2 separate regions of the Homo sapiens genome follow, and region 2 is linked to region 1. Evidence: fine-mapped expression QTL. A gene starts in region 1. The other region holds a variant in brackets. All regions are shown on one strand. Distances are from middle to middle.

Evidence for each region.
Region 2: its variant is fine-mapped to the expression of LINC02268 in prefrontal cortex (BrainSeq, PIP 0.93).

What each region holds. Positions count from the first base shown.
Region 1 is chr4:174,211,404-174,227,655 of GRCh38, forward strand. LINC02268 (long intergenic non-protein coding RNA 2268) reads right to left here and starts at 8,995. Exons shown (of 5, transcript NR_125896.1): 1 at 8,911-8,995. RefSeq lists enhancers at 2,903-2,962, 3,073-3,733.
Region 2 is chr4:174,113,229-174,129,480 of GRCh38, forward strand. It overlaps LINC02268 (long intergenic non-protein coding RNA 2268), which reads right to left. Exons shown (of 5, transcript NR_125896.1): 2 at 6,669-6,858. Among named protein-coding and RNA genes, the nearest start is that of LINC02268, 99 kb to the right of the region's middle. The variant C/T (reference allele first, on the strand shown) is at 9,497.

The DNA of each region.
Region 1 (16,252 bases):
TACTGTTTTCTTACCAATTGTCCCTGCATTTATATATGAAATTTTCAGAAGCGCATGGTAATCTTGCCATCTAATCCTCTACAGTTGACAAAGTGCTTTCATACGCATTTTCTCCCTTTTCTGCAGGCTATGATCCCTGAACACTCTCAGCCTTGTCAGAGAGACCTCCAGGATGCTACTTGAGGCTGAAGAGTAGCGTTCTGGGTCCCCAGCTCAGTAGGCACCACCTCTCAGGGAAGTGACCACCACTACGCTCTCAGCTCCGCAAGTCGCTGGACAGTCAATAGCGCTCACACGGTGTCTACCGGATCTGGCACGGTCAAGACACAGGAACAGCCGTACTTTCCTGCGGGTAAGAGGCTTTTCTTTTGTGCATCACGTGCAGAAGAAGCCACTCCGAAGTGCAAACACCTTTCTAAAGTTTTCAGTGCTTCCTAAAATGCAGACATCGACGCCTTGCTGAGTTATCCGATCCTTTGATGATCAAATAAAATTAAGGCCAGCTCCCTGCTGTTTGATCTGTGGCTCAGTTTCTCTAAGGGCTGCCGCGGGTTCCGCAAAGACTCACTCCAGAATCCCCAGCTCCCTCGCGTCAGCGAATGTCCCGCTGGTCCAGGCAGCCTTTTCCTGCGCGGTTCTTCAGTTCCTTTTTCTAAAGCTCTATTTATACAAATTACTTTTTTCTTCTTTTCATTAAGCAATCAGGATTTATTTTCTTTTCTCTCTGTATCAGCCATGGACACATTCACTGATGAAGAACCAATCAACGTTTTGTGTTCTTATTTATTTTTATTTCTGATGAGGCAGGTTCCAATCAAAGAGCAAAGTCAGAGAAAATAATCAAACAGCTCGCGGTGGCCGCTTTGCCTTTGTTTTTATTCTAGTTTTCTTTGGTGGGTCATTTTTAATTCTCTTCTTTGTTAAGGGGTAGTTAAATCTGTATCTTTGTGCTCAGCAAGAGTGGCCCGTGTAGTTAAGAAGGCCCAGAGAGCTTCCTTGCCCCAGTGTTCAATGGGCAGCTTCCCTTCTCACTGAGGAGGAGACTTTCAGTGGAGAAAGAGAAATGGAAAAACTTTCCAGCAAAATCAGTCAATGCATGGAGAAACCTGCCTTTCAGGAGCTGCTAATTCTTTCCCAGGCAACTCCTACTCCCCTAGAGAGGAGGAGGAGAATGAGACCTCAGGTAAGTAAAAGATCCAAGCTCAGTGCTGATGGAGTGAGAAAAATCCCTCTCTCAGTGAGGGACAGAACCTGCTTTTTGTCTTGAAGTCGGCATTGTGTTACTGAAGATGTGGGGGCCAAGATTATTTTCAGGACACTAAAAATCTGAAATTGTTGACTTCATAAGTTGAACAATGACCAACACCAGTTGAGAATGGCCTGGAGTACCCTTCATCTTACCCCCCACCCCAGCAATGAAAATAGCCTCTGTGAGCACAAAGGTGTGGAGAGTGCTATCTGCTATTAAGCACATCAATTACATTGTGGAAAGGCTATGACTTAAACTACACATAATGAAGATACTTCTTAGGTGACACAGAGAAAAGTTTTGACCAGATGATTGGCGTTGTTCCTTACGTTTCTGTTAAAAATCACATCCTCTCAGCTCCCAGCCCAAAGTGAGTCCTAATGTTAACCTGAGACTCCTTCTAGAGTGGAAGCTCTAGGAAAGGGTCTGTGTGTGTGTGTGTGTGTGTGTGTGTATGCGCACATGTGTGTCTTTAAACTGTTGTGTGCATGTGTGTCTTTAAACTGTGTCCCCAGTGTCTAAAACAGTAGGCATCAAGTAAATATTTGTGAATTGAATGACAGAACATTAGAAGCAACACTACCATCCCCACTGCACCCCACCCACCCACCCCGGTGAAAAATGGAATTTCCCAGCCAAGATTAGTGAAAGAAGGAAAAGACAGGGGTTAAAGTGCTCTTTGCCAGAGTTTTGGGAAGAATTGGCCACCTGGTAAAATAAGTACTGACCCAACGACATCTTCGCCTACTCTTTATAATAAAGGGAAGTAAAATCACAGGTAAATAAGATGGGGGCGTTGCCGCAGAGAGTGCTTCTGAGGGTCCTTCTCTGGGATCTTGGAAAGAAGATATCCTGGAACAGGGGGCTCAGTTGGAAGGTGGCATACACATTAGCTTTCTAAAATTAAATCTATAAACACAAAACTGCAGAACTTTCAAACTACTGTGTAAGTAAAGGAAGTCTCTCCACTGAAAGCTCAGCTGGCTGTTAAGTGGGTTTTAGAAACAGCTCTAGTAAGCGAACCTATCTGCGATTTTCGGGTTTCCATTCCTATTCGACTTCCCTCCTCTGGGTCCTTACCGAAAGGGAAGGTCCCAAAGGACCACCAGCGCGCTCTCGGAGGCTCCAGGACTAGACATTGGACTCCCACAGCGCAACACCATAGGGACTCCGGTGTTCGGTTCCCGTGGCCCTCTCCTTGGCTCCCGGTCACCGTCCTCACACCCCCTGGCCCCAGTTACTGACGGAAGCCATGTGCAGCTGCCATAATGTGTATAAAAGAATCTCTCCCTGGCGTTGGTTTCTTCTCTTCTTGGAATGCTTTTGGCAGATCCTCCGCGTTTTCCGGGTCTCTTGGGAGTCTGAACATGCATTTTCCTTTATTTCAGACAGGATTCCGAGTGTTAACTAGATTGTGCCCTCCCCACTACCTATCCTGCCCATCTTCCTTCTCAGCCGTCGGGTGCGGGAGGAACGCCCTTGCCAACCTCAGCCTTTTTGATCTTCCGCGGGCAGAGACTCATCAGAGCCAGGAGGACTGTAACTACCCCCGGGGCGTGTACCGCCGAAGCCTGAAGAGGCTGGTTGGGCCAAAATAGCAGTCGCTGCAGGCACCAGTTTCAGCCCGTCACCTGAGTGCCGGTTCCTGTGGGCGCGCCAGTCTCGCAGGCAGCGCGCCCAAGCTCGCGGATCGCCCTCTCACATTTTTAGAAGCCAAGAAAAGCACTTTTGAAATTCACTCCTTCGACCGTGGGCAGAGGAGCAGGTGGGCGCCGAGCCCTAGCTGAGGGTGGGGGGTCGCGGAGGAGAGGAACTGGAAAATGGGAAATAGGTGTCTGCTGACCTAGAGTTCTTCGGCTTTGATTTTAAGCGGCAGTGAGGCTGGGTGGTTTCGCCCCCCTCATCCCCTCGGTCGCTGGCGCAGATTGATCCTGGAGCTAGTTACGGGTGTTAAACTGGTACGCGGGTGGGGCAATTCATTAGGCAAGAAATGGATTAGTTGTTTATTATCTATAAACATTCCAACCACAGCAACCAATCATAAAACCGCGGAAGGGCCTGTAAAGTAAAGCAGCAGCGAAGCCTCCATGTGGGCAGCTCAGGCTTAGCGATTGTTCCCGGGTGATAAAGGGTCGATTAGGGAAGTAGAGCTAGGAAGGTGGGGGCGGGGGAGCGGGCGATAATTAAGCGAGTCGTCAGGAAATTGCTTTCTAGATGGGGATCATGATGCCTCTAACTTGAACGGGGCAGGAGAAATATTGGGGTGATTTGGAAGACGGTGATAAGGGAAAGCACAAAATAAGGATTGGAGGGCCGCAGTGAGGTCATTAGTGAAGCTGATGCCGGAGATAAAAGCTGTTGATTAATTGAGGGGAGCAATTTAGTCTTTGGTTTCTTGGTAAAATGCTTAGTCACTAACCATGAAAGCGGCCTAATAATATTTTATGGGGGTGGGGAGGAGTTTAAAACTGGCATCTTTCTAGTAGCAGAAATTCACCTTTGAGTATGGCTTTTTAAAATTCCTCTTTGGAATAAAACGTTTTCTAATAAGAGTTAGTCTCAAAAAAAAGTTAATATTAGGTTGGTGCAAAAGTAATTGCGGTTTCTGCCATTACTTTCAAATGACACAAACCGCATTTACTTTTGCACCAACTTAATACTTTTTCTTTTTTAAGTATAAAGCTTTTGTTTTTAACAAAATAACTATTTGGTTTCTTTGGGGTTTCGTAAAACAAACTTTAAACTCATTGCATATTTGACATTTTACTATATTAGAAAGTGATGAAATAATTATGCTGGTTTTCGAATAACTAATTCAAGTATACTGTTTTCACTTTGATTCAGAACCTATTACTCAGAAAACAAGTTAGTGGCAAAGTTCTTAATCGTTTAATAAATATATTGGTTTGGAAATTTATTAGAACTAAGATGTAGAATATAGTAATATACACACGTTAGAGGTTTCCTTTCTCAAATTAAAAAAAAAATGGTAATTTAAGTGTAACCGTCCAAAAACGGGCATGAGGCATAAATGAAAAGTTTGATAAATTATTTTTTAAAACCTTCTTATGGAATTTCTTAGATCAAGATAAAGAGCGTTACCTGCATCCCAGAAATTCCTCTCCTGCAAGATGTTTTTTAAAATCAATTTATTAGATTTTTGTTTTGGGGATGTTTATGTTTAAATAATTGCTCATCAAGTGCTTGGATTTCTTTTCAGGACGAGTATTGTAGATTTTCCTCCCTTGGGGACTACTTGCCTAAAAATAAAATGATTCGAGCATTTTGAAGAAGGAACAAAAACAGCCTCCACATCCTTTTTTTTTTTTTTTTTTTTCCTGCCTCTGGCAGCCCACACTCCTTCCCCCAGCTTTCTTTATTCCATATGAGAGACATAACAAACAAACGATTACATGTTGAAAAACACATCTGAAAACAGAAAGGTCACGTTACTACCGAGTCCTGGGGAACATTAATCTGATGTTTGGAAAACAGTTGACAGTTGAAGGTTGGAGTTTCTCTTTTCAACTCCTGGACAGAGAGAGAGAAAGAGAGACAGAGAGAGAGAGAGAGTTGAATGAAAAAAAGAAGGGAAGAGACCACTTTGTGGCCTTTTCACTTCAGGAATAATTGAGGGACTGCCAAATTTCTAACCCAGATTTAAAAATGCAAACACATTCACAAAGAGGACTAACGATTTGAAATGGCTCAAGTTGGCATTGACTCTAAGTGAGAAGGTGTGTGTGTGTGTGTGTGTGTGTGTGTTGTCTTAAAATAATTAATGTGAATAGCGAAAAGTAATCACGATAACATCAAGCCCTGCATGCCTGAGGGGAGAGTTTGCTGGACAAAAAACAGTCCCTTTACTAATAGCTTGTGAGAAGGTGAAAGTTGATTGCCTGACCACTCGTCTCTCTCCAGCGTTTCTCTAAGTCCGAGCCCCCATCTCTCCCAGTCCTCCCGGCTCAGCGAGGAATTCCTTTTCTTGACTTGTTTAAGTGCTGGTAACCCAGGGCTCAGTGGCTGAAGCAGCTGGGTGTCTAAAACCCCGATATCTGGCTGCCACTGGGGTTCCTCCTATGTGAATTGTGAGGTAGAATGAGGAAGAAGATCTGAAGTACATTCCTGGGACTTTGGAAATTATCATATTGAAAATTGTACTAGTAAATTGCAAAGACAACAAATAATGAGTCCTTCTCTACAGGCATTCTCAGATCCTGGTATCTCTACAACACAGTGGATATTTGAGGCAGGACGATGGATGGGGCCAGGTGTGAGAGCGAGAATCAAGAAACCTAGGATCAAGGAGTTTTACCAGAGCTTTGTGTGACCTCGTGCAATGTCACTTTAACCTGGATAGCGTCAGGTTTCCTCACGCATAAAATAAGATCAGATGATGCCCTCTTGGATTCTTTGACTGCAGGACAATCATTAGGCCATAGTGAACAGATGCGCTTGGTTGCCAGACCGCGCCCTTTGCGGGTCTATCAAAAGGGCAAGCGCATATTCTGGAGCTGTCTCGGAGACTTGGACAGAAAGATTCGAGGCAAATATTCTAGGCTGGGAAATTTCGCGCCGAGCCCCCCCCTCAGTTAGCCTGTCTAAAGGCTGGTGTGGCCAGAGCGAGGCAGAGAGCTCTGCACCTACTGTCGGGGCTGACAATGATTTATGCGCTTGTGACCCACGTAGACCATAAACCTAGTTTGCTAGACGTACAGGGAACTGCGCCGCAGTTAATGCAGAGGACTTATCCTCTGACCTGCAATGTCTCCCCACCTGGTGCTCTACAGCTCCAGAGAGCAGGGATTTCAGCTTTTCCTCCCTCATTGGATCCAATTTCAATCCCCTCGGTTAACTGAAAGTGTGTTGACTTCCACCCAGCCGGCAGGACCCTAAGGGCGCCTGGAGCAGTCTGGTGCGGGTCCTGGCTGCAGCATGCCCAGCAGAGCTCCGGGTGCAGGAGGCTGCAAAGCCACCGCCGCGTCCAGGCCCCTTGAGCGGAGGTGGGAACGATCCGCCTTAGAGTTCAAGGTGAATTGCTGTGACAGTGGCGGGTGGAGGAGGGGAGTTCGAGCCGTTCGCCTCGGGGAAGAATTATCCCCGATCATTTATTTTTAGATCTGAATTCCTCCAGAACCCAGCAGAGGCTGTGGCCAGAGCCCCAGGGCCAGGCAAGCGGCCAAGCTGCGCTCTCGATAAAGGAGCCAGAATGGTTCCATCTGGTTACAAACATATCTTTTTATTAAAAAGCAATCAGATCCTGAAGCGCTTCCCTTGCGGTTTACCGCTCTCCGCAGGCTGCTTCTCCGAAGCCAGCGGTGGTAGCGCCCACTCGGTTGAGCCCACGCCTCCGCCAGGCAGCGCCTCCGCCAGGCAGACCTCCTGCGGGACATTTTGTGGCCAGGGGGGTTCCTGCCCAGGGACCTCTAATAGGGTCGGTGGAAGCTAATTTGAATCTTCCCAGTTCCTTCCCTGTTTATTTCTCAACCCAGCAGTTCAAAAATTCACTTTATAACGGTCCCCTAACAAAAACACGAGTAAGAAAGATAGCAAAGAATTAAGCTGGACAGGCACCCATGTTGCGAAAAAGGTTTTGCTTGGAGACTGCAGGAGAGGGCTATCCCTCTTTACAATTCACGACGTTACTACCAACTTTGCCATTGAGTGGTTCCTCTCCCTGCCCGAATTCCTGGCCATCTTCGTTCCAGAGAGCGATGCAATCATGGCCTTGAAACCGAACGGGGCGTAACGTGCCATTCCTCTCCAGCTCCCGAGCCCCACTCCCACCCTTGCCGTTGAAACTGTGAAAAAGCCGCCAAAGTTTGGGCACCCAGCCTGGCAGTCGGAAGACAGTGAGATAAAGAATGCGATAGTAAGTCCTTAAGTGCTTCCTAGAGATAAGGTCCCGGAATCCTGGAAAAATTCAGTCTGGCCTCCCTACTTCAGCAAGTCGCCTCCTGCTTCTGTCAGCCCCCTCCCCACACACACCTGGAGGGAGAGGCGGTGGCCACAGGGGTAGCTGGGGCAGACCCTCCGCTCCTCCACTCCCGGTGGCCAGGGGTCCTAAGGCCACGCGGCTGGCTTTCTTCTCTGGGAATCAGGAGATGATAATGAGAAAATCCCTCAACCATTGGCGCGACGAAACTCAAAAATGGACAGCCCTCCCTTATTCATAAATATTACTTCAAATATGTTAAAGACGTTAAGTAATTTTTAGTCTCTTTAGAATTTCCAACGCTATAGTTTATTATGACAGATAAGGTTTGATTTGTGCTAGTCGCGTGCCAGGACACTGAAGGTGAAAAGAAGGAAAACAAGAAAGAGTTTCTAAAAGAATACACGTAACATTTAAGATAACTACATACAAAGTGCTCACTTAATTTCTCTTAAAACAGTTACAATGAATAAATTACATTTCCAACTTAATAAAATTTAATTCTCTTAGTCGTTTGTACAATTGATGGCCTTTGGTTATAAAATTTTACTTTTTGGAGAAATATTGCCCCTCTGTCAAATTATAGCACATGACAAATAATATAGCAAATAATAGGTTTGACTTTTAAACATACACAGTTATTTGAAACAAAATGTTTTTAACTTTCTGGCAGCATAGGCAAAACAGTAAAAGCACAGTTATATTTTAGGAATTATCTTAATACATTCCCCTCTATGATATCAGAACTTACTCCTGATTGAACCAAGGAAGAACAGCTAACTCTTCGGATAAAACAATTTTTTCTCCTTCATTCCCAGGCATGGTTTGGAAAGCAATAAATGCATATTTGCAAGAAGTCATGAAAAATCAAGATTAAAAATACTGTATAATCTTCCTGGTAAAACATATATACATTTTATATCTGACCATATGAAACTGTCATCTATAAGTATTACATTTTAATGAAGCATAACTCCTCATGATATATTTATTTCATAACAAATGGCAAAGGTAATATTACTTATCTTCAAGTATTTTTTCTTTTAAAAGCTCCTCCCACCAAATGAGAGACCTCTATTTAAACAGCAACTTCTATTGAAATATATGATCTGAAGGAATTCGCTATTTGAAAGTCTTTTGACAGCTTTACAGATTATATCTGTTGAGTTTTTTCTCTCTCTCTTATTTCCACAATTTACATGTGTGAATATATGGGTAACCCTCACTAACTTTTCAACATCAGTCACGCACATTAGGTAGAAAAAATTAATTTTGAAACTATTCTTTGTTTTTAAAATGATATATGTCATTACTGTTAGGTGAGTAAGCTAAGTGTGTTTTTTTGGAAGGGGAAGGTAGGTTAATCACAATGATAGAGCAAATATAAATAGTATTATGTTGTTGGTGTTAAAAGGCAAAACCTCTTAGTCTGTGAAGATCACCTACTTACCTTCTCTCCATTAAAAAAAGAGTTGAACTTTTTGGCTCCCTGTATAATGTGTGTTCTCCATAGATTTTATACTAAATATTAATATTAAGATTATAGAGCTAACCTTTTTCTAATGTCAAAGAGCTTTTGAACAATACAGGCACAAGAGAGAAAAGACACCTACCTCATACATTCACATCCCAAATTTCCTATCTCCAATGCAACAGGAATAATCTTTTTATTCCATTAAAATGGTCACTAACCTTATAATAATAAAGGCATGTTTTAATCTCTTACCTGAAGGAGTCTTATCAATGTAACAAGAACTGAAATTGTGACTGGTCCTTGTTGTCGTTTACAGTACAGAGATCTGTACTGTATTGCCTTTGTGGAGGGCTGAAGTAACAACATATGACTACTGCCTCCTGAGACCCTTATGAAAATAAGATATATAGCTGGTTCAAATAAATGTTTTAGGCCTTGACCCAGGAATATAATTGAGAAAAACAAATTATTTCACATACACTAAAACATAATTAAAATGTTATTCTAAGCTTTGCTTTTGTGTGTTATGTTGTATGTGCATACTAATGTTATCCTCAATCATAAAGCTATGTAAGAAATGATTGTACTTTTAAAAATGTTACGTAAACATCTTTTTTCCTAAAAGTGGCAAAAATTACCTTAGAAAGCAGTTACAGTGCAACTTTCACTTTTAAAGGTTTTCAAGATTGAATATTTTAATTCATAACATATTTCTCATTGTTAAAATTCTTTGGCTTCCTCATATCTGGCATTTAAAATTTTTCAGTTGTTTTGTAGACTATGTATGTAAGGTTGCATTTTTCACTGTCAACATAAAGTTATTGTTTGCTTTGGATTTAATATGTATTTGGATATGTATGCATATTTGTTTAAAACTATGAACTCTGGGGAGGGTTTTAATTCTATGCAACATAAGTCAGTTTTATATAATGAATATATACAACTTCAGCTAATAAAAAGTAAGATTTTAATCTTGACAATATATTCCTAAAATGCATTAAGATATTGTCAATCTAAAATGAGCTTGATTTGAGAACAAAAAGAATAAGTTCTTTTAATGAACTAGTGGTATATTGTTATATGTATATATGTTTTGCTGATTTTAGCAAGAAAATGGAAAATAATCCATAAGAAAATGGAAAATAATCCTCCTGCAAAAGAAACCTGAAGTGGATTACCTAATAAATTGTTTTCAGCCTGAATTTTAAGGTATCACGACATAGTCATGTTTGTTTTTTAAAATATCATTTTCAAAAATCAAAGACATTAATGGTATTCTCTATTTCAAAACTATGATCATTATTCTGCTTTTTGCCACCAATATTTATGCTAGGAGAAACATGTTTAAGAGTCATCAACACCTTGGGCTCATTGACCATACGAATGAGTCACATGGTCAAAATGAATAAAATGTTATTTAGAAAAAGGAAAAATATATATATATATTTATACATATGCATAGGTATTCTTTTTAAATGAATAAAAGGGCTTCATAATTTGGGACAGCAGAAAAAGGGAGTAGCAAGCATCACAGCCCAAAGCAAGAATGAAAGTAGCAATGGTGTCTAGACAAAGGAGCAAGGATATTTGCTTTTACAGTTAGTTTTATTTGGGATATCTTGGAAGAAAGAAGGGTAGGCTCTCAATGGCTAAATTAAATTATCTGGATGATTTGTCTACACAGAGCAATAATGACATCTCTTTTTGTTGTTGTTTGCTTTTGTTTTGTTTTTTGTTTGTTTGTTTGGAGACAGAGTCTCACTCTGTTGACCAGACTGGAGTTGCCCGGGCTGGAGTGCAGTGGCATGATCTCGGCTCACTGCAGCCTCCACTTCACGGATTCAAGAGATTCTCCTGCCTCAGCCTTCTGAGTAGCTGGGATTAAAGGTGCCCACCACCACACCAGCTAATTTTGGTGTTTCTAGTAGAGACAGGGGTTTCACCATTTTGGCCAGGCTGGTCTTGAACTCCTGACTTCAAGTGATCCGCCTGCCTTGGCCTCCCAAAATGCAGAGATTAGAGGCCTGAGCCACCGCGCCCGGCTCCTCTTCCTGATGTGCTATGTAGATACATCTCTAACAGGAAACTATAGATCCCCCAGCATTTGCTTTTGAAATAATTCAAAACTTTCATTTCAGTTAGGAAACACATTTTGCCAACATCATATTGTCTATCTTTTCCATTACATTCCCCATAACAATAGTTTTTAAATGAAGTATGCCTCAACTTAATGTTTATTATTAATGTAACAACTATTTGTTGACTGTTTACTACAATTCTCGGAGCACCAATGACTAAAACAAACAAAATAACCTTCCCTTGGTAGAGTTGGGGAACTTTTCCGCAGAGCATGGAAATTAAGGGGAAAAATCCTGTAGGTTTCAGGTTATCCACTAGGTGGCAAGGTGTGCAAAAGTGACTGCCTATTGCAGAGCAAAATTTGGTACAAAGAATGTGGCTTTCTATGAAAATTTCCACCATATTTTGTTTGTAATGATATTTGTAAAGTCTCTTTTTGAGCTCTACAGTTAATAGCTAACGGTCAGGATTCACTCTGTGTTCAGTTTTACAAAGCATTCTTTGCTTGGGGCTCATCTCTTCAAGAAGAGAGCCAGCTGTGTTCCCTAGTGGCCCATCTACAAGATCCCCCAGCTTACCTTAAGAGATTTTTCTCTTTTCCTCCCTATATTTCTCTGTGCCCCCAGATGTGTGGATTATGAAATCTGCCTAAGGGTCTGAACATCTGGCTTTGCAGAAGGACCACAAAGCGTTGGTTCAATTTTATTCAAATTTACCTAGATCAATTTAGATATCACACTTTGATTTGCTGATGTGGGGGGTTAGTGTCCAAAACACTAACATCTTACAATAACATCCATGCTGATAAGTAGTCAAACACATATGCCCATATGTACATACATGCAATTATGAATATATTTTATTTTCAGAGACTACTTAAGTGAGATCTCACATTTATAGCAAAGAAATAAAATTATTTCATTTAATCAGACCTCTTCTTTGGAAAAGAATTGTGATATTTTTCTCAGTGAAATTGGGCCTTTATGCATGTATTTTGTTTTCAGAGACCATTTAAGTGAGATCTCACATTTATAGCAAAGAAACACAATTACTTCATTTAATCACACCTTTTCTTTGGTAAAGAATTGTGTTCTTTCTCTCAATGAAATTGGATCTTTATGCATCTTTAGATCTCCCAAAGAGATTAAAGAAAAAAAATCTTTCCGTCTTTGAAAAATGGTTTATACAGGATGTAGAACACTTGTAGGGTTGTTTAAATATAGAGTTTGAGATTTTTCTGTGCTTGTCTAACATATGAAATCTGTATCTTTGTTTTCAGATGAGTAGCCTCTAATCCAAAAGTGAGATATTAGCTAGGCATGGTGGCACTCACCAGTAGTCCCAGCTACTTGAGAGGCCAAGGTAGGAGGACTGCTTGAGCCCTGGAGGTCAAGAGCAGCCTGGGAAGCATAGCAAGACCCCACTCTCTAAAAATACATAAATAAAGTGAGATTTTAGAGATAAATATTTTTCTTTGTGAAAATGTTCTCCCCAACAAGACTGTGTGTCTAAGGACATAATTATTAGTAAAACATTAACATTTTAATGTTTATAGCTGAAATTTTTCTCCTTAGATATTCACTTTGGCTGTGATAATTCTCAACACATTCAAAATGTGTGCCTCATAGCAGAGTTTATACATTTGGCCATGAGTTTTGATAACAGCTGTGAATAAGCAAAGGATATATTATTTTATACATAAATTGGAAATATGGGTTGTTTCTGATAGATGTGGTTGTTTTCCATTTATCAGAGTTGTAGGGAAGCTATTTTTCGAAGTTAGGGAAAAACTTTTAAGTCAGGCTCAATTCCTCTCAATACACAATCAAGCACCAATTTATATCTGTTCTGCTTAGCTCAGGGCCTTCCACATAGTTCAATTAACAAATTTACTGATTGATAACTACAATTTGTTTCATGGAGAAGTCATTCATACAAAATGTATTTATAGATCATAATGTAATCAAGCCAAGGTATTACTAGTAAAAAAAAAATCCATTCTTAATACAATTTTAAATGTAAAGGGATTTTACCTTCAGTTAGTTTAAACAAAGGAATAAATCTCACCCACCCTCCCCCCAACCCTCACTGCAATAATTCTGCTTTGGGTTTCAGGACCTAGAAATAGAGCTTTTAGTGTTTTTATTTTTAATTCCCATTACAAAATATGTCAACTTTTTAATGACTTTATTATGATGAAATTCTATTCTGGATTACTATCATTTTAGGCTTTTCTCATAGACTTACTGTCTTTTACGAGAATTTTACTTTTTAGTTCACAATAGTATGACAAGCAGAGCAGAACTCAATAAAATTTTTTAAAACCACAAATTTCTCAATAACTCCTCAATACATCAAAGTTTTCATGTAACCATATTTTCTACTCAAAATTTTCAATATACATTTTCTTCATAATTATAATTATTGTAAACATTTTATTTAGGGTTTTTACTTCATATGTTATTATAAACAGTTATCTTATCCTTAACTAGTTTTTATATTTATCTAGATTAATGGCTAAACTCCCTTGCATTTCTTTCTAAGCATTATCCTTCCCAGTGTTCCTCATTTCAGTAAAGGGCACTAGCAGCTGTCCGGTTTTTAAAGCCAAAAATCCAGGAGTTCTCAGGCCCTCCCTTCTCCTCCCCTCCCCTCCCCTCCCCTCCCCTCCCCTCCCCTCCCCTCCCCTCCCTTCCCCTCTCCTCCCCTCCCCTCTCCTCCCCTCTCCTCCCCTCTCCTCCCCTCTCCTCCCCTCCCCTCCCCTCTCCTCTTTTCTCCCCTCCCCTCCTCTCCCCTCCTCTCTCCTCTTTTCTCCCCTCCCCTCCCCTCTTCTCCCCTCCCCTCCCCTCCCGTCTCCTCCCCTCTTTTCTCTCTCTCTCTCTCTCTCTCTCTCGCGATATATATATATATATTTATTTTTGAGACACAGTCTTCCTTTGTCGCCCAGGCTGGGGTGCAGTAGTGTGATCTCAGCTCACTGCACCCTCAATCTCCCGGGCTCAAGCAATCCTCCCGCCTCAACCTCCCGACTAGCTGGGACCACAGGTGTGCACTACCACAACCAGCTCATTTTTATATTTTTATTTTTTGTAGAGATGGGGGTCTCACTATGTTGCCCAGCCTGGTCTTGAACTCCTGGGCTCAAGCAATTCTCCCACCTCGGCCTCCCAAAGGCCTGGGATTACAGGCATGAGCCATGGCACCATCTCAGTTCTCTGTATCTCCACTGCCGCCACCCAGTTCTAAGCCTTCATGACCTTCCATCTGAACAGCCTCAGATGCCTGCTAACTGGACTCCGGGCTTTCACTCTTGCTCCAGCCTATTACCCGCTCTTCACGCAGCAGTCAGGAATGATTGTTTTAAAAACATACATCACATCACATGACTCCTCTTTTAAAATCTTTCTGTAATGTTTTATTGCCCTTGAAATAGAATTCAGATTCTTTGCTACTACCTACCAGGCCCTGCCAGATACGGCTTCTGCCTTTTTTTTTTTTTTTCCAAACCCATCTCCCTCTGTGAGTTCCTTCCTTCCTCACATATTTCCTGACCTTTATCATGTTTTAGTGGCTTTTTTAGGTGCTGGGAATGGAGAAGTGAATATAACAGTGTCTTCTTTCATGGCGCTTACATTTTATGGTGCATGGACCAATGTTGTTTCTGCCTCCCGGGCTCAGCCTTTACTGCTCCTCTGCTTTGGAAAGCACTTATCCTCTCAGGGCTGCAAAGACAGAGCGAGATTAATCAGTAGATCCAGGACTCGCTAGCCTGTGACCTCTATAAATGGTCATGTTTATCTCCTCAGAGCATACTTCTGCAGGCTAAATAAATTAAATAATACAAAGCCCTTAGCACAATAAATGTAAGATAAATATGATCTATAATTTGGATTTTTATTATCAGTTTTGCAAAGAAATATTTCTACAACTTTTTCAGAGATTTCTGAGACTTGCTTCCTTATGGCATTGACCAAACTGCAAAATGAGCTCCCCTGCAGGAATTTTGAGCTACAAAATACATTCCCAAGAAGCTGGAAAAGTATTTCCTCCCAGAGCCAGGGCTCTGCTGTGCAGCATAATACAAATATCCCAAGCTTAACGCCATGGTTTTTATCATGGATGCTGATTAGAACATAATTTAGTGATGTTTTTGATTGGAAACAAATTTTGACCCCATGGTGCGTTACATTCAAAATGTCTCCATTGCAAAGTGTTTAAACTTTTATTATTGCATTTATCACATTGTATTATAGTCGTGGGTAGGGTAACCACACATCCTAAGTTTATGCCTTTTGTCCTGAAGTACCATCTGGTTTAGCATTTTAGCACTCTCAAAAGTGTCCTGGTTTAGACAATAAACTCTATAGTCCCCCAATTATGAGGCAGGTGCCTGGCTGCAGAGGCTGAGGAGCACTGGGGTGGTCCTAAGCTAAGTGTGGGTCTGTTTGAGAAATTGGTGATGCTGGTGACCCAGAGATGTCTGCTTGTTTTGCATGCAGAGAAGGGCATAGAGGAGAAACTTAGGCACCGAGGGCCAAGGGCAGAATCAGTGGAGGAGAGTAAGGAGGGTCTCCAAGACTACACCTAAACTCTAGAAGAAGAGGGCTCCTCTTCTCATTTCTGCTAAGAACACAACACATTCTAAGGCAGTGAGGATGGAAGAGAACAGCTTCGTTTTGGTTCTTTTGAGGCTTGTAGTTGTATTATAAGACAGCAAGGAATCAAGGGCAATGAGACAAAACTTAGAAGATGCCTTGCAATCCTAAACCTCAGTGAAGTGTGAAAACAACTAAACCTGGGTTTCTGAGGACTAGAAGAAACATTTGGGGTTGGCTGAGGATTGGGTTTGCATGCATCTTAATCACCAGAGTAAGATATAATTTGGTTTGGTTTCATGCTAAAGTTTTAGTTTTCGGTACTTCGAATTAAAGGGTCAGATACAGTCTGTCAGCTAAAAAAGAATATTTGTTAAGTAGAATACTTCATGTCCTGGCAGGAGGAAACCTTTCTGAACAGAGTGCACCTTGGTTATTTAGTTTAAAATTTTTATTCTGGAAGATTGTTTAAATTGAGACAGGATGGTAACTTTTTATATACAAGGAATGTTATTAAAGTACTTTGAGATTTTTGGATGCTTGATTTGAGAGCACTTGTCAAAATCAATTTGTTCATACAACACGTATTTAGATCCTACAGCTTGCCATGCACTGTGCTAAGTGCTCATGACAATATCACAATGCATATCAACTCCTCTAGTTTCTTCTGCTATGTCTATGCTGAGGACTCTCCCAGAACAGTATCTTAGCCTTTATCTCCCATCTTAACACTATACAACTAACAGCTGAATACCTTCACATAATTGTCTTATGAATACTTCAAATTGACCACAGTGAACTCATTCTCACCTGCTTACATCCTCCCCATCATCACTACCTTCCTCCCAACCCAAGAAGACGTGTCCTTCACTGACATTCCCTCCATCTAGAATAGAACTCCTTCTTCAGAGTATTTGGAG
Region 2 (16,252 bases), 98 kb before region 1:
TGCCTAATTTTCCTCACTGCGCCACAAGGGGTAAACCAGATACAGCTGTTATTTGAATACAAAATAACATCTTATTCAATGCTAAATTCACTGACCTAGAATGTTGCCCAGAGAGAACAAATCTTTTTATCAATGTCTGAATAGTTATTCTCAGAATGAATTTCACCTTTCCTCAATTTAACACAAATATGAACACTCTGAGTTAATAAGTGACAACTAGGATAGAAAACCTGGAGACTGACATAGGAAGAAATGTACTTTAAAGGGATATTTACCATTCTTTAAGCTTTCTTGTTATTTTTACTTCTTTTTTTTTTAAGAGACAGAGTCTCACTATATTGCCCTGCTGGTCTAGAACTCCTGGCCTCAAAGAATCTCCTCACCTCTCCCTCTTTAAGCTTTCTTTTGCATTGTGTCTTATTTATATCTGACTGGAAAAATTAAGACTTGTGAGACTGATAAAAAGAAGTAATACAAGGATTATATTAATACAGTGTGAAATGAATGTATTTCATTGAAACTGTTCTGAGCTAAGCTGGTCTAATTTTCTTATGACATCAGGGCTTCCCATAACTGGGAATTCTCATAGCTTCATGATATCAAATGCCTGCACTGGCTTGCGTGTAGTCTGGAGGTTTCTCTGAAATTAATTTTTTCAAATCAAGAATAAAACAAATATGAAGAAACAAAAGCATAATAACTATCAGAAAGAAAATATGTATCCACATATGTTGAGACTAAATGCTATGTAATAAAACATGAGTCCTGAGAGAGAAAATAGCTAAAATATTCCATGCCAAGTGTATACTCACACTTGAGAAAAGCTTTTATTGGAAGAGTACTAGTGGTTGCATTTTCATAAGAAAGGTGAAGCCATTTAAAAAAACTCTTGCATGCTCCAAGCCTCTAGCAGGTGTGAAGGTGACAATCCCATTCATCCAGTAGGAACTACCTGGGCAGTTGAAACGATGTGACAGCTCCATTCTCTCTGTTGTGGACATCTCTACTTAGGTGGGATTAAAGCAGTAGAATGCATAGGAATATCTAAAAAAAAAAGTACAGTTTTATTCTGTTTCATCAAAGTGTCTGAAAATTGAGGAGTAGAAAGGAAGAGGGATAAATATACTTGGGGCAACACTGGCAGAAGCCAACATTTTAAAGCAATCATTGTTGATCTTTTGATTCTCCTCTTTTGGTTGTATTAGACATCTTTCCAAATCCTCCTTGTGTGAGTCTCGGAAAGATGCTAAGCAAACTTAAGCATTTCCTTCATGACTTGGCACACTTAAGGTGGTACCCTAGCCTCCCCAAAATTTGTCACTGCCATATTAGTCATTACGGTACTTGAAATTTTACCTCTGTTACATCCATTCAATTACATCTGAAGATACCCACTCTTGATTTATACTATAACCCAAGGCCCAACTCAAGCGACTTCTACACATAAATTGGACTTATACGCTTCTGCCCATCGGAACCCCCTTGTCCTGGCTAGTATCTGTATCACATTTATTTTAGGTGGTTTTATTTAATTTCTCTACTTACTATTAGCTTTAGTTTGTTCCTAGATTGTTTCATGATAAACTCCTGAGGACAAATAACATATATTACAATTTACAATTTTTTTTGTTTCACCAAGAGTAATATACAAACAAAAAGTAATAGAAAAGTTGAAAGACACCCAGCACTTTGGGAGGCCGAGGCAGGTGGATCGCTTGAGCTCAGGAGTTTGAGACCAGCCTGCTCAACATGGTGAAACCCCGTCTCTATCAAAAATACAAAAAATGTAGCCAGGTGTGGTGGCGCAGGCCTATGGTCCCAGCTACTTGGGAGGCTGAGATGGGAGGATTGCTTGAGCCTGAGAGGAGGATGCTGCAGTGAGCCAAGATTGTGCCACTGCACTCCAACCTGGATGACAGAGTGAGACCCTGTCTCAAAAAAAAAAAAAAGAAGTTGAAAAACAGAAGAAACACACCAGCCTCAATACCTCCTTTCTTATTGTGTATATTAATATCTTTTAAGGAAAGACTCCAACCTTAATGCCTGATTTCTAATGAATCTCATAGTGGGAATTACTATCTCAATAAGAAGAAAAGAAATAAAATTGGCAAACAGCAGAAGTCTTGAGATGAGCATTACTTCATGGTACTTCTTGAGATTTCTCCTATATTACCCAGTCTGCTTGGCATTGTCTAGAAAAGGAGAGAGCAAAAAATGAAAGCAAAAATGAATCTGAAATGTTAGATATTTGGAAATGAATGAGAGACTGGTTTGAAGAAATATAAGAGAACAAAGACATGCTTGCATTTTGAAAGCCGTTTTCCATAAATTCTTCAAGAGCTGAATATGCTAATTTAGCACACTGAACCGGTGATTTGATTTATCCTGTTCTGGATTTCTGTAATATAAAGAAATTATACTACAGTGAATGTCTAAAAATAGCAAAGTGCAACCAATCATGTTCCTTATTTATTGAAAACCACTAAGTGAACGTGACATGAGTGGTTCTATTCATGATATTGAAAGAATTCCTTTTTATACCTCACAGAACAGAAAAGCCTTTTATCCTTTTAATCAGAACAACACCTTTCCAGATTATCTAACAAGTCAGAAAACCCATTTCTTATAGTATGATATGGCATGTTTTAGGTTGCTGGTCAAAACCTCCTTTAATTAAATTGGTCATATATATGAACCCAAAGTATTTAGAATTAAGGTCTCTGTAGTAAGACTAACCCATTTAATTTTCTTATTTATGCTATTCATAACTGAAGGAAATTTAAAGAAACTGCTAAATACTGCCCATTAATTTTCTCCTTGCTCAATTTTGATGTAGAAATAATTTCGCTTTTATTTGTTTACCAAGAAGTACCATATTTAGGAACATTTAGCTAGACGTTTCAAAGCTATAAATAAAATTCTAACTTAATTCTGCAAACTGTTTCGTACCCCAATAACTAGAACCATAGAAAATAACTGGCTGGCTGCCAAAAAGTAAGGCGTGGGATAGAAAGCCTTTCTAGTATTCAAGTTTCTGAAATGAGAAATTTAAATGAATGCTCCTTATGATGTCAAGAAATCTCCATCCTGCTTAGTCCAACTCAAATATTTCCAGTTTTCAAGTTAGTATCTCTGTTTAAAATAAGCAAATGTGGATTGGTCTTCAGTGTTTGTCTGGATACTTTCTGGCAGTGGAGAAACGGGCATGCAAGGGTTCCCAGATTCACCCCACAGCCTCGCATTAGAGCAAAGGTGTTAATTTCCCTTGTAATTTTTCCTTCTCAATAACAGCATGCTCAAACCCAAATATTTCTCAGTATATTATTACAATTTTAAAAAATTGCTGGCTTATCCAATTCTGATCTGAAAAACCTTTCTCTAATTAGTGTCTTTGCAAAACTGAACTCAGGCAAATTTTAATCCCTCATTTACTGATTTTATTTTAATACTATTACTCAGCATATGTTGGCTGCATTAAACCATTACAGTAAAAATTAAAATGAAAGTCATATGATTTATTCCCCTTTAAAAGTGCTCAATTGGTCTAGTAAAAGTCAAGTGCCAAATACCAGATGTCGGATTTAAAAGAAATTCTGAACAAGAAGGAAAAAACCCTCCCATTACTCTCTTAAGATATTTAGTTGAAATTAATGCCATCCCAGAAAAAAATAATATTAACATATGAATACATTAGTCTGAATATATTTGATTTAAGAAAGAAGAGATGCAGGGAATAAAAATAAAAATATATTAATATTTATTGATTTAAACCCCGCTTTTGAAAACTACATTTGTATTGCTGTTACACACAATTTTCAAGCCAACTTGATATTTTACAAAGAAAATTAGAGTGGTTGTTTCAATTTAGAATGCAGAAGGTCAGAATAGGAAGACAAGAAATAGTATAGATACTTATATCAAGTTTTTATTACTTTTCCTCCAAACTTTTGTTTCTCCTCACTATTTATCAGCATAATTTTTAACCAAAATCCACTTCCTGGAAAAATAAACTGATGTGCTGAAGTTAATAGAAAGATATGTTCAAAAGAAATAGCCAAATAAAGATAACTACCTTTTCAGTTCTTATCATACTTTCAAGACAGCTATTTCATATTCAACACTCCTAAAACATAGTTATTCCCCAACTCCAGATCTTTGCCTACATTACTTTTTTCTTTCAAAAATTGCTGTTCTCTTTCCAACAGTTAAGACCTACACCTCAAAGATGGTCTAACTATAGCATTTCTTCCATAATTTTTTAAAAATTATTCCTCCCCCACCCACTCTGCCATAACTACAATGCTGCTATAGTGGTCACTGGCTAGCAATTCCCAAAACACTACTGCCTTTCTCCCTGGATGCGGCAAGATTACAGTCCCCGGCTTTCTTTTTTAGTAAGGTATGGCCATGTGAAAGTAGACTGACCAATGGGCTGTCCGCAGAAGTAGTTATACCCTCTGTATGGGTATTTCCTTTCACTGTGCTGGCTGCATTTGATTGGCAGTATGATCGTGGCGGAAGTCCGTGCTGGAGGTGGTAGTTCTGGGGTTCCTGATGGCTCCATGCGGTAGATCCTGCCCTCCTGTTCACCCCAAACCCCAAACCCAGCCCTCCGTCCTATTGAACTTTACATAGCATAAAATATTATACTGTGTTTATCCACTGAGATTTCTCAGTTCCTCAGCAGCTGACAATATCTTAACTAATGTAAGTAAAATTATGATCTCTCAGTTGACAGAATATACATAATATTTTGTGTTTTTCTTGTCACTGCCTATATTCTCCTTATTTGTTAATGATACCTCTTCTGACAAGTTCCTTAAAGTCAGGAACTCCTCTTTTTTTTCAGCTTTTATTCCTTACAGCCTCTGGTAATAAGTAGATGCCTAATGAATTGCTCTTTATCTGTCAATCTGAGTTTATTATGCTACCCAAAACTAACAGTCTCTTGGTTCATTCATTTATTATTTTATTCATTTATTTATCCAAAATATCTGTTGCATCTTTGCCATTTGTCAGTGCATTAGACACCTTTGGGATATCTTCCCAGCTCACATTAACTCCCCATTCGTAAGGGGTGACCTTCGACAATAGTCTCAGTGCCTAAGCTTGTGGCTGACTTGACCAGAGTACATTATCTCACTCAAGCTGGGCCAGTTAGATCCGGTCCCCAGGCAAGTTGCTAGGAAATAGCTAGTTCATCCTAGCTCATGACTGAAATTGTACTCTACCTACTTGAAAGCATTGGCAGCTATGTAATGCCACATTGACCTAAGAAGCCCAAAAAAGTATAGAGCAAAGAGGAAAAATAAAATAAGCACCCCCAAAACGTAAAACCCTGAAGCCTCTCCATGGCCTGTCTGCAATTATTTCCTTAGACCAGCCTGAATTCTACCACTGTGCTCTATAGCTTAACTATACATTACCTGTTTTGTATAAGCTATGTCAGGATGGCTCCTGTTACTTGCAACTAATAAAATTTTAATTAATAAAACAAGACATTTTGCTTTTCCCAGGGATACAATGATGAACAAGAGATATATAGCTCTTACTCTTATAGTAAAACCAGTAGGTGGCAATTCAGTAACTTTGCAAGGGAAAAAAATGAACTTATTTTTCAACCCTCTCAGATGCTGATTTTCCTTCCTTTTGAAGAAAAAGATTTGGGGGTGATTTTCATTTGTGCTACACATGAAACAAGAGTTTTATTATTCATGATAATATCACTTTCTCCTCTCCTAATGTTTTTTCTCTTGTTATTTTGCGATTCCAAAGTGTAACAAAAATTGTAAATTTAAACATCGGAAAAAGAAGTCAAATACATCTGTGTTGAAAAGAGAAAGGTGGGAAACTTTGAATTGGGGTGATGGTAATGGCGATGTGACAAAGTGGAAAGATATAAAACATTAGTGAGATGAAAGACGCGGAACTTAGGAACTAACTACACACAAGAACAACAGAGGGGAGAACCAAGATGGCTGTGTTTCAAGCATGAGTCACTAGGAAAATGGCGCAAGACCAGGATGCTGGTTAAAGGGAAAAAAATGACACATGGCATATTGCTGCATTTCAGAAAGTCTCCATTCTCAGGGTACATCAAGATATTTTGGAGATCTTTGAAAAGATACAATTGCCCCTCCTTCAGCCCCAGAGATGATGAATCCATTGGTCAGGAGTGATTCTGTGTATTAGTGTTTTTAAAAACCCATGTTGATGGGATTGAGAACAAAATTCATTTGAAGTGTCTGGCTCTTCCACAAAAGTATTTGCTTGTTTACTTTCTAAAAGATGTTTCTTAGTAGACTCTGGGGACTTCAAAAGTGTGGAGGGAGGAAGAGGGCAAGGGTTGCAAAACTTCCTTTGGGTACTATGTTCACTATTTGGGTGATGGGTTCAATGTCAGAAACCTGCATGTGTAGCCCCTGAATCTAAAATTTTAAAAGAAAAATAAATCAATTTAAAACTAAAAATTTTTTTTTATTTAAAATAGTAAAACACTGTACAGAAAACTTGAAAACCATGCCACTTAGTAATATGGAGTTGAAAATTAAGGCAGAAGATAAGAGGAGGAATGAAAAAATGAAAACAAAGCAAAATACCTATTAAGTAATACAGAGGATGGAAAGGAAAGGGTATATTCTGTAAGTCCTGCAGTTTCTTTTCCTTACCTCAGATACTGAAGCTTCTAACAGAAAATCCAGAAGACTCTGGGAAGTAGGTGAGGTTTGACTTCAATTCCTCTTCTTGCTGAATTCCCAATCTTTCCGTGCCTCTCACACCACACTCAGTAATTGCCTGTTGCTTTTACTTACACAGACACTCCTAATCACTGACTTCAGCTTTTCTCTTCATTGCTTTCTGGGATGGAAAAGAAGGAATAGTTAGCTAGGGAATTATCCAAAGCATCGTTAATAATTACCTACAAAACAATTCGCTTCTATAGCTACTGAATGAATGAATAAGTTGCTACATAAGAATCAACTACAATTCTTTCCTTTTTCTCCTCTTCAAAAGGAAAAAAGAGAAGAGGCATTATCTACTATTTATTAAACTGAACTTAAACAAGAGATGAAACCTAACGCAGCTTCTCCTCCCTTACAGAATAGGTAAAACAGATATGAATCAGTGAAGCAGAAACCATGTAATAGAAAAAGTGGAATATAATGAATTTGGATTTGATGATGTTTTACAAGCAGATATCGCAAGTCAAATTTCACAGCAGTAAAAACAACAGAAGTCCACAAAGGATAGATGAAAACATGTCTCTCTCCTGTCTCTCTCCAATCTCTGTGTGTGTGTGAGAGAGTGTGTGCGCGGGCGTGTGCGTGTGTGTGCGCGTGTGTGTGTGCGCGTGCGTGCGTGTGTGTGCGTGCGTGCGTGTGTGTGTGTGGTGTAGGGAGAGGGATAGATTCCTTTTCAAAAAGTGTCCAGAGGGGGAAAAAAAATGCATCATGCCACCTAGTGGCGGAAATTAAGTTGATTCCTTTTAACTCGACAAAGCGACTTTGCCTTTCTTTAGAAAATCAGATGAATTCATTAACATAGTGGAATCTTGATTTGGCAAACTACACAGTAGTTAAAATGTAAATACCAGGTCTATGTTTTAATTTTTCATCCACCAATGGCATTAAGAAATATGATGAACTTTAAAGAGCCCTGAAGTCAGAAGCAGGATATCTTTCCTTCTCTTTCGACCAGGTCACTTAACCACCCTGGAGCTCAGTTTCCTCCATAAAGGGCCAGAATAGATGAACTCTTAGCTCTTCAATTCCATGTTTCAAAGTATGCAATAGACCACATAATCAGGGTACTCTTATCTAATGCAGTTCCTTGTGACAAAGTCAGGCCACCATCTTCACTGATTAAACGCCGGATGACACAACATGCCTTCTACACTTTCAGCCTCATTCCAGTCACATTTTACAGAGTCCGTGCTTCATTGCAAGCCTTTCTTTATTACTGCTTTGCATTATTGGATGTCTGCTGCTGAGAGTCCCTAGATTACAATTCTTAACTTCTGTGAACTGCAGTGGTGCATATTTGTGATGTATTTTTCTAACTTACGTGAATGTCCACAAATTCCCCTTTGAAATCAAGTAAAGTATTCCTCCAAGAGAAAAAGAAATAGTTTGGAATTATGTAGCAATATTTTTCAGACATTGTGAAGTATAATTGCCCCTTTCTCCCACTCTCACTAATAATATACATCCATAATGATATACATCTGTGAATCAGATTTAGAAAGGGCATTAAAAGCAACAATTAATCTGGGCTATCCAGAATACATAATCTCCTACTAACTAATCTGTCCTTGTAACTTAGCGACTAAAGTGTGAACATTTTGTTTTAATTCAAAAAGAAATAAAATTTTCTTAAAATATAAGATTTTCTTTTTTATTTATTTTATTTTATGTATTTATTTATTTACTTTTTGAGATGGAGTCTCACACTGTTGCCTAGGCTGGAGTGCAATGGTGCAGTCTTGGCTCACTTCCACCTCTGCCTCCTGGCTTCAAGTGATTCCCCTGCCTCAGCCTCCCGAGTGGCTGGAATTACAGGTGCCCACCACCACGCCCGGCTAATTTTTTGTATTTTTAGTGGAGACTGGGTTTCACCATGTTGGCCAGGCTGGTCTCGAACTCCTGACCTCGTGATCCACCCACCTCGGCCTCCAAAAGTGCTGGGATTACAGGTGTAAGCCACCGTGCCCAGCCATAATATTTTCATTATTCCAAATGTGATGGAAAACCCATAACACTTAGCTGATGCAAATTGTTTAAAAAGTATCAGATACATAGATGAAAAGTCTTTTTAGTCAGATATTTGACTTTCTCTGCAGCAAAGCCTTGCCCCTCACCCTCAGCCCCAGCCAGCTGAGGGAAGAGTAATTAGCTCTCCAAAGAGAATAAGTGGTTAATGCAAGAACATGTTTATTTGCTCTAAGAAGACTGTCTTAAGGTTATATTCTCTACCCAGATTGCATCTTCACTGTTGACAACACAGTGTGTCACAGATGAAATTATGCTTGGGGTAAAATTAGTATTTCCTTCTCCAAACTGGAGATTAGAAAATAAATGGGTCAAGCATAGGAATGGGATAGTACACACATTAGCATTCTATGAACACACAGAGGGACTGGCAATTAGATTCATGGTAAATATTGCTGACATTCCCCTGATGCAAACTCACAAATATAAGAGAGAGAATTTTCTAGAACATGCTTATCAATGTATTTGTTTCTTTGTTCAACTCCCTTCTTAACATTGTCCAGACATCCTTTAAGCCTCCAACCTCCCCCAAAGACATGCATACAAACATATCCAAACACTTCATTTTTTCACGCAGTACCTTATAACACCTCTATTTAAGCCTTTAAATGATATGTTTACTTGTCTTTCTATCTCACTAGACTGTTAATTACAGCAGGCAGGGACCTTTTCTTTGTTAAACTTAGGACTTACTACTATGACTAGCATATAGTAGGCACTTTAACACC[C/T]TTGATTGAACTGAATGTACTGTGTTAATTTAAACAGTGCATTATTAATACTGGGACCAGATGAGTCTATCTTCCTCCTATGTCTCATTGCTAAGGAGCTGTGGATTCTCAATAGTAGAGTGTCACAAAGGGAGCAGCCTCTACTTCATTTGGAACTATTACAAAACATTGCTTTCCTCATGCTTTTTTTAGAGTATGGACAACAAAATTCTTTTCATACTGTTATGAAACACTTCTGATAGCTGGGCAACAGCTAGGAAGTCTCTTCAGTGAGGCCAGAGGCAAGAATCAGAGGATGTTATTCCCTTCATTTCCAGCGTATTATGTGGCAGGACAAAATTTTAAATTTCCTTCAAACACTTCATTCCTTCCCTTCTTCACCCATAGTAAGGAAGAACTTTTAGCATAATGACACACTGAAGTTAAACAATTAGACATGGTAAAATTTAGAGAAAGATGTTTGTTTCATTGTCATTGATATTTTTACTGTTCGAATAGTTCACTCTGGAAAAATCTCCAAAGACAACCTGAGCTTGTTCCTAGGATGAATTTATCTATTCCTATAAATGGAGCCAAGAATAAAAGTCTCAGAGCCTTTGACCTTAGCATGTTACTAAACAGAAGCCAGGACCTTGGAGCAAGGGATGGAGTAGGCAGATGGGTAGAAAAAAACAGGAGAATGGCCCCTTGACTTCTGTTTGAAGTGAACTCTCTGAACTAAAAGGTGCTGTGATGGAAAAACACTTGGCAGCACTTTCCAGATTCTATGCATCTTTATAATAAGCAAACATTAAGATTATTTTTCAGTAAAATCATCTTTCTGATAATGGTCTATATCCACATATCCTTCCAGATGTTGGAGGAAATAATGAAGTGATTACAGTCACTGGATTTCTAGACAAAGCTGAATGAACAGCAATCTTGGGGGGTGGTGTTTATTAAGGCATCAGCAAGTTTAATATGGAAGGAAGGGAGCCATTTCACACTTTTCTATCCAACTAGTAGCTAGCTTGTCTGACATTAGGTTGCTTGTGGATGCATTGCTTTGTCAAATATTTTTAGAACTTTAAAGGAAAGAGCACTTGTTGATTCCTCAATTGGATTGTCCACAGCTTGAAGACAAGCCGAAGACATGGTGATATTTATTGTTTCCTTCTATCTCCTCTGCAATCTTAACCTTCCACTGTCATCCACAGATAGTATTTCTCCCCAAAACAAATTGTACATGTGGATAAACTCTTGAGTTTGTTGTGCACAGAATGATGCTAATACTGGAAGGAGTTTAAAGAGTGCAGCAGGGTGGTAGAAAATATAACTGTCATGATGAAATGTGGAGGTAATTAAGGCAAGTGTAAAGAATTACAATTTTGTGCCTGATGATTTTTAAATAATAATAATAGTCACTATTTACCGAGCATTGATCAGGTGCAAATTACCATGCTAGATCATTTTCATATGTCACCTAATTTCATTCTCACAAACACCCTGTAATATTGAATATTACTAGCCTGGACTGGAGGGACTGACTTGCCCAAGGTCACTCTGTATGTAAGTGGCAGAGCTGGTACTCAAACCTGGATCTGTCAGACCCCAAGTTCCTGATTTCAGCTTCTACAAAGAAAAACATTTTCTGTGCTTCACCAGGAGTGTGTTTTGGTTGTTTGTTTGTTAGTATGTGTATCTATTTATGTGAGAGGGATTGTAGTTTTACTCAAGATAACTTAAGAAATGTGACAATAGAGATAGATACGATATTCCAGACAATGTAAAGAATGTCATGGTAAGGTCCCAACAAAATATTTTTAAATCAAGGGTATATTTCGCCATATTTTTTACTATAGGACCAAGATTCATTTTATCTGGGGATCCAAATATTCATGGCTCTATTTGTATGTCTCACAAACCTGGAGCTTGATGAGTCCAAAACAAAGCACTAATTTTCTACATCCCATCCATGTCCCCTTCCTCCCCCGCTTATTCTTAATCTTGGTTGGGGGAACAAAAATGAAGCCTCCAAGACAGAAGCTTGAGAATGTTATTTAACTCCTGACTACGATGGACTCCTCACCAATCTCACTTTTCTGCCTCCTATTTCTCCATCCCCTTCTTCTCAGCTCCTTTTTAGGAGTTTCCTTCTGCATGCATCTCTTCCTTGCTAGTGTTCCTGCACTCAGCTTTCTTCTCACTTGTCTCTCTCTTCTCTCCTTATGTAAGTCCACTGATGCTTAATGCTTTGCATACCATCTTAACATGCTAATAAATCCTAAATCTGTGTCTCCATCCTAGAATTTTCTCTTTCTCTATCTTCAACAGATACCCAAAAATTAAGATCTCTAAAGCAAAATTTTGTTATTTCCCTCCTCAGAATCTGCACTTCCTCCAATATTTAAATGGCATTACCATTCATAAAATTGAACAAGCCAGAAACATAGTGGCATATTTATCTCTCCTCTTTACTCTTCCCATCCCTGCCTAAACACCAAACCCTTCACAAGTCCTGCTTACCCATCTCCTAAACATTTCCTGAGTCTTTCCACTTAATACCATCCCCTTTGCCACAGTTTCCTAGTTCAACGCCCCCATCCCCAAAATTCTTTCACACATGTTATTGCCCAGCACCTTAGATGGTCCTCTTGCCTCCAGGCTTGAAAGGAATAGATCCTTTCAATCTATTCTCTATTTGGGGTAGAGTTGCTGGAGCATGCAGAGAGTATACTAAGGAAGAGAACAGGCAGGTAACTGACTCTACTATCTCATTCTAATACACTATATCTTACAGTTAGAAGAAACATTAAAAGCCATTTAAGCCAACCATTGCATTTTAGATAATGAAATCAAGGCCGATGATATGCATAACATCTCTTTTCTAAGTCAGTACTACTCCTTTACAATTTACGCTCTTACATTCTGTTGAGTTTCACATGTTCCAGTCAAATGAATCATGCCCTTTTCTGACCAGATATTAAAATGAATCCTTCATAGTCAGAAACGTTTTGAAGGTAAATAAACTGAGTAGAAAACTGGGAGCATAAGCCCCTCTGACAATAGATCAGAGGGTACTTACTTCTCCCACTGTATTTTTTCACATACAGTCAATTCCGAAGCCAGTGGACGTAGTTGATTGCACTTAGAGGGATCCTCACTTTTTTGCCTTGTGCATTTTGCTGTGTTACATGTGACTATATGAATATAAATTTAAATTAATGAAATGAAATGAAAAATTTAGTTCCTCATTCACTCAAGCCATATTTCAAGTGCTTAGTAGCCACATGTGGCTCATGGCTACTGTACTGGGCAGCAAAGATGAAGAACATTTTCATCACCGCACACAGCTACATTGGGCAACACTCATCTAGTGCTCTGTAAAACTGACCACAATACCTCCTGGCCTAGATTCAGGTAGGAAAAAAAACAGCCTTGAATGGAGTAATTAAGAGAAGGAATAGAAACTTTGGAAACCTTAGCCATACAATACCCTTTTTAAGAAATGCTACTCCTCCAAATCATGACATCATGAAAAATTGTTTTCTGAATGAAACAAAGTATAAGCATCTATGGTTGGTATGGTTGAAGATAATCAACAATTTTCATTGAGAGAAAATCAAGATCCCAAACATGAAAAAATAGACACCTTTCCCTTTCAGTGCCTGTTAAGAATCCAATGATCAAAAGTAATTGCTCATTAATTTTACAATCAGAGGTAGTGAGAAGGGTCAAAAAGTCACCAGGGCCTGATAGAACCGTAAAAATGAGTTTTGCAGAGACATGCCAAGAAATATTTGAAATCACTGAAAAGAATGGAGCTTCACTGAGCTGCCGAGTCCTCCAAATAATGAAAAACAGCACAATAGGCCATCAATTTCAACAGCACCTAAATGAGTCACATATTATGGCTGATATATATCAGATGTATTTTTCTTTTATTTTTATATAATGTCATCTTTTAATAAAATGTTTTATTTTAAACTTTCATTTAATTAAATAAATTCAAGTAAGCTTTATTAAGAAAAAGATGGCATCAAACCATGTATTCATAACTTTTGGGCTAGTAAATAAATATGGTGTCCATATGTGAGTTGAACTATGAAATTGCCACAATTTAACTATTTTTGCCTTACAAAAACAGCAATTTCATATGATTCAACTACCTGATTTAGAAAAGCTATTTTTAATCTTTGAATAAATAAAATGGAGTGTATGTTAGACCTGAAGAACAAATATCATTTTGCCCCAGTATTTTAAATGGAAAAGAACCTTTAAATTCTCCATTTTAACCTTTAGTCTTTATGATTCTCTGAAATGATATAAAAGAATGTTACAAAGGCAGCACTATCTACCCCCTAAATCTGCTATTGCTTGTCAAATTTCAATTAGTGAAGGGAAAAGCATGCATTATAGCTGTAATATGTTGCCTTGAAGTTTAATTTTCATAGTTCTGTTTTTCCAGTTTGCAGTACTGATGGTTCACCTTCCTTAGAAAAATAGGTATAAGGCAAGTAGCCTCAAGCAGTGTGTAACAAGCTACTTTATATCATGCTCATTTAAAATCCATGCTTCCTCACCACTTTTTAAGTTGATCAGCAAGGAGACATCAGGGATGTTGGCTTTGGGTCTGTGGGGGACTGACGTAGATTAGTATATGGAGTCACTGCACCCCTGAGCCCAGTTTGTGACCTGAAATATGGTCGTGAATTTAAGCTGATCACCAGGAGTTGTAACCTTTTGGATTCATGCCTCACAGAAAGCATTAGCCCTTCACCTGAACTTGCAACTAAGGAAATAACCTTATTGGAAGACCCATGGCAATTGGGGCTGTTCTGGTTCCATCAGGAGCCGAGAGATCAGAGAGCCAGCACAGTCCACTCTCACCCCCAGCCTCTACAGTTCCATTCCCAAACCTCAGAGAACACGCTGCCCTGCTGGCAGCACCCCTTCCACTTTCCTGTAACCCACACCTCCTGCTGGAGACACTCAGCTGCTGCTGATCTCTGAGGAGCCCCACAACTGCGGAGGTGATCCTTTCTACCAAGAAAGGTGTCTCAGTGCCTAGGGCCACTGGCCTGCCCCCATCAAAATCTGTACTGTCAGCCAAGAGGAAATTGAAAAAGCTTTACACCACAGGGCCCTAGCCTCATAACCTAGCATGCCTTTCATGGAACATCAGGTTAAGAAATGAGCATCTCACCTTCTGAAGATGAGTTTCTACAGGGAGCGGCAGAATGCTGGCAATGTGGGGAGTTGGGAGCCACACCCGGCTCTCATGATTTAGACACACCTCCACTAAGCTGCCCTTTACCCTCCACTGCCATTGACAATCAGAGTTACGATGGAACTCGGCAGCTAACAGGGAAGGCTTGGAAACTGGGATGGGATTTGAGTGGATTTATGAACTTTCTGTTACTTAGAAAGTGGGGATCTTGCGTATCTGAATTAGGAGGACTGTTTGGAGTAAATGAATTATACTTTTAGAGTGCAAGGTGAGGCTCCAGTTACACAGGCCTTTGTGCTTAATTTGGTTTCACGTTCTACTTCTTATAGATTTATCAAACAATGATTATCTAAAATGAATATCTAGACTAGCAGCTTTGGTCAAAAGAAGGGATTCGTATAGAACATCTGACATGATTGTAGACATAGAAGCTCACCATTTTTTTTTAGGAAAAATTGAACATCAGATCTTGTAGGAAATTTTCTTAACAAAGCTTAGAACTGTCAAATGTAACAATATCCAAAAGTATTTTAAATTGGTTATTTTATCTGCCCGAACTATTTAATTTTAATCAAAATCTTAACAAAGTTTTGAAGCTGAAATAATGATCACAAATTGTTTGGGATCATGTGTGGATCATGGGGAACATACTGTTTCTTGTTTCTTCTTTTATTTTTTTTTTTTTTTTTGGAGATGGAGTCTCACTCTGTCGCCCAGGCTGGAGAGCCAGTGGTGCCATCTCGGCTCACCACAAACTCCGCCTCCTGGGTTCAAGTGATTTTCCTGCCTCAGCCCCTGGAGTATCTGGAACTATAGGCGTGTGCCGTCACGCCCAGCTAATTTTTATATTTTTAGTAGAGATGGGGTTTCACCATGCTGGCCAGGCTGGTTTCGAACTCCTGACCTCGTGATCCGCCTGCCTCGGCCTCCCAAAGCGCTGGGATTACAGCCGTGAGCCACTGCGCCCAGCCCACTGTTTCTTCTTTAACCAAGTTCTATGGTAGTCATATACAATGCTTTGTATTTTACATTCACACCATCTGTATTAAAGGAAAATATTCAGATAATAAGCATTAATTAAGAAAAACTGCTTCCAATGGCCAAAATTGGGACAACATGGGCATCAAAAAAGTAAATGAAATCAATTAATACACATTGAATACATATACATTTTAAAAGTTTATGTTTCTGTAATACTGCAAATAAATGAAAAACCAAACAACTCAAAACAACCTGTAGGCAGCATAGGAAATAACTAGAGCACCAAATCTTCATTGTTAAAATATGAAAATCAAGATTTAAGCTGACTTAAATGTATAAATTACCTTTGCACCGTTCTTGTATGAATTGTATTTCCAGCCATTTTTCAGACAGGTAAATTTGATTATGGACTGCATATTAAAAGATATGATATTACTCTTCTTTTTATTTGGTTAGATTGTGCTTATACCCATATGCATTAGTATGGAGGGGTAAAGTGATATAATTACTGAGTTCTTTTTAAACGTCAACTAAAAAAAATAGATAAAACAAATGTAGCAAAATCT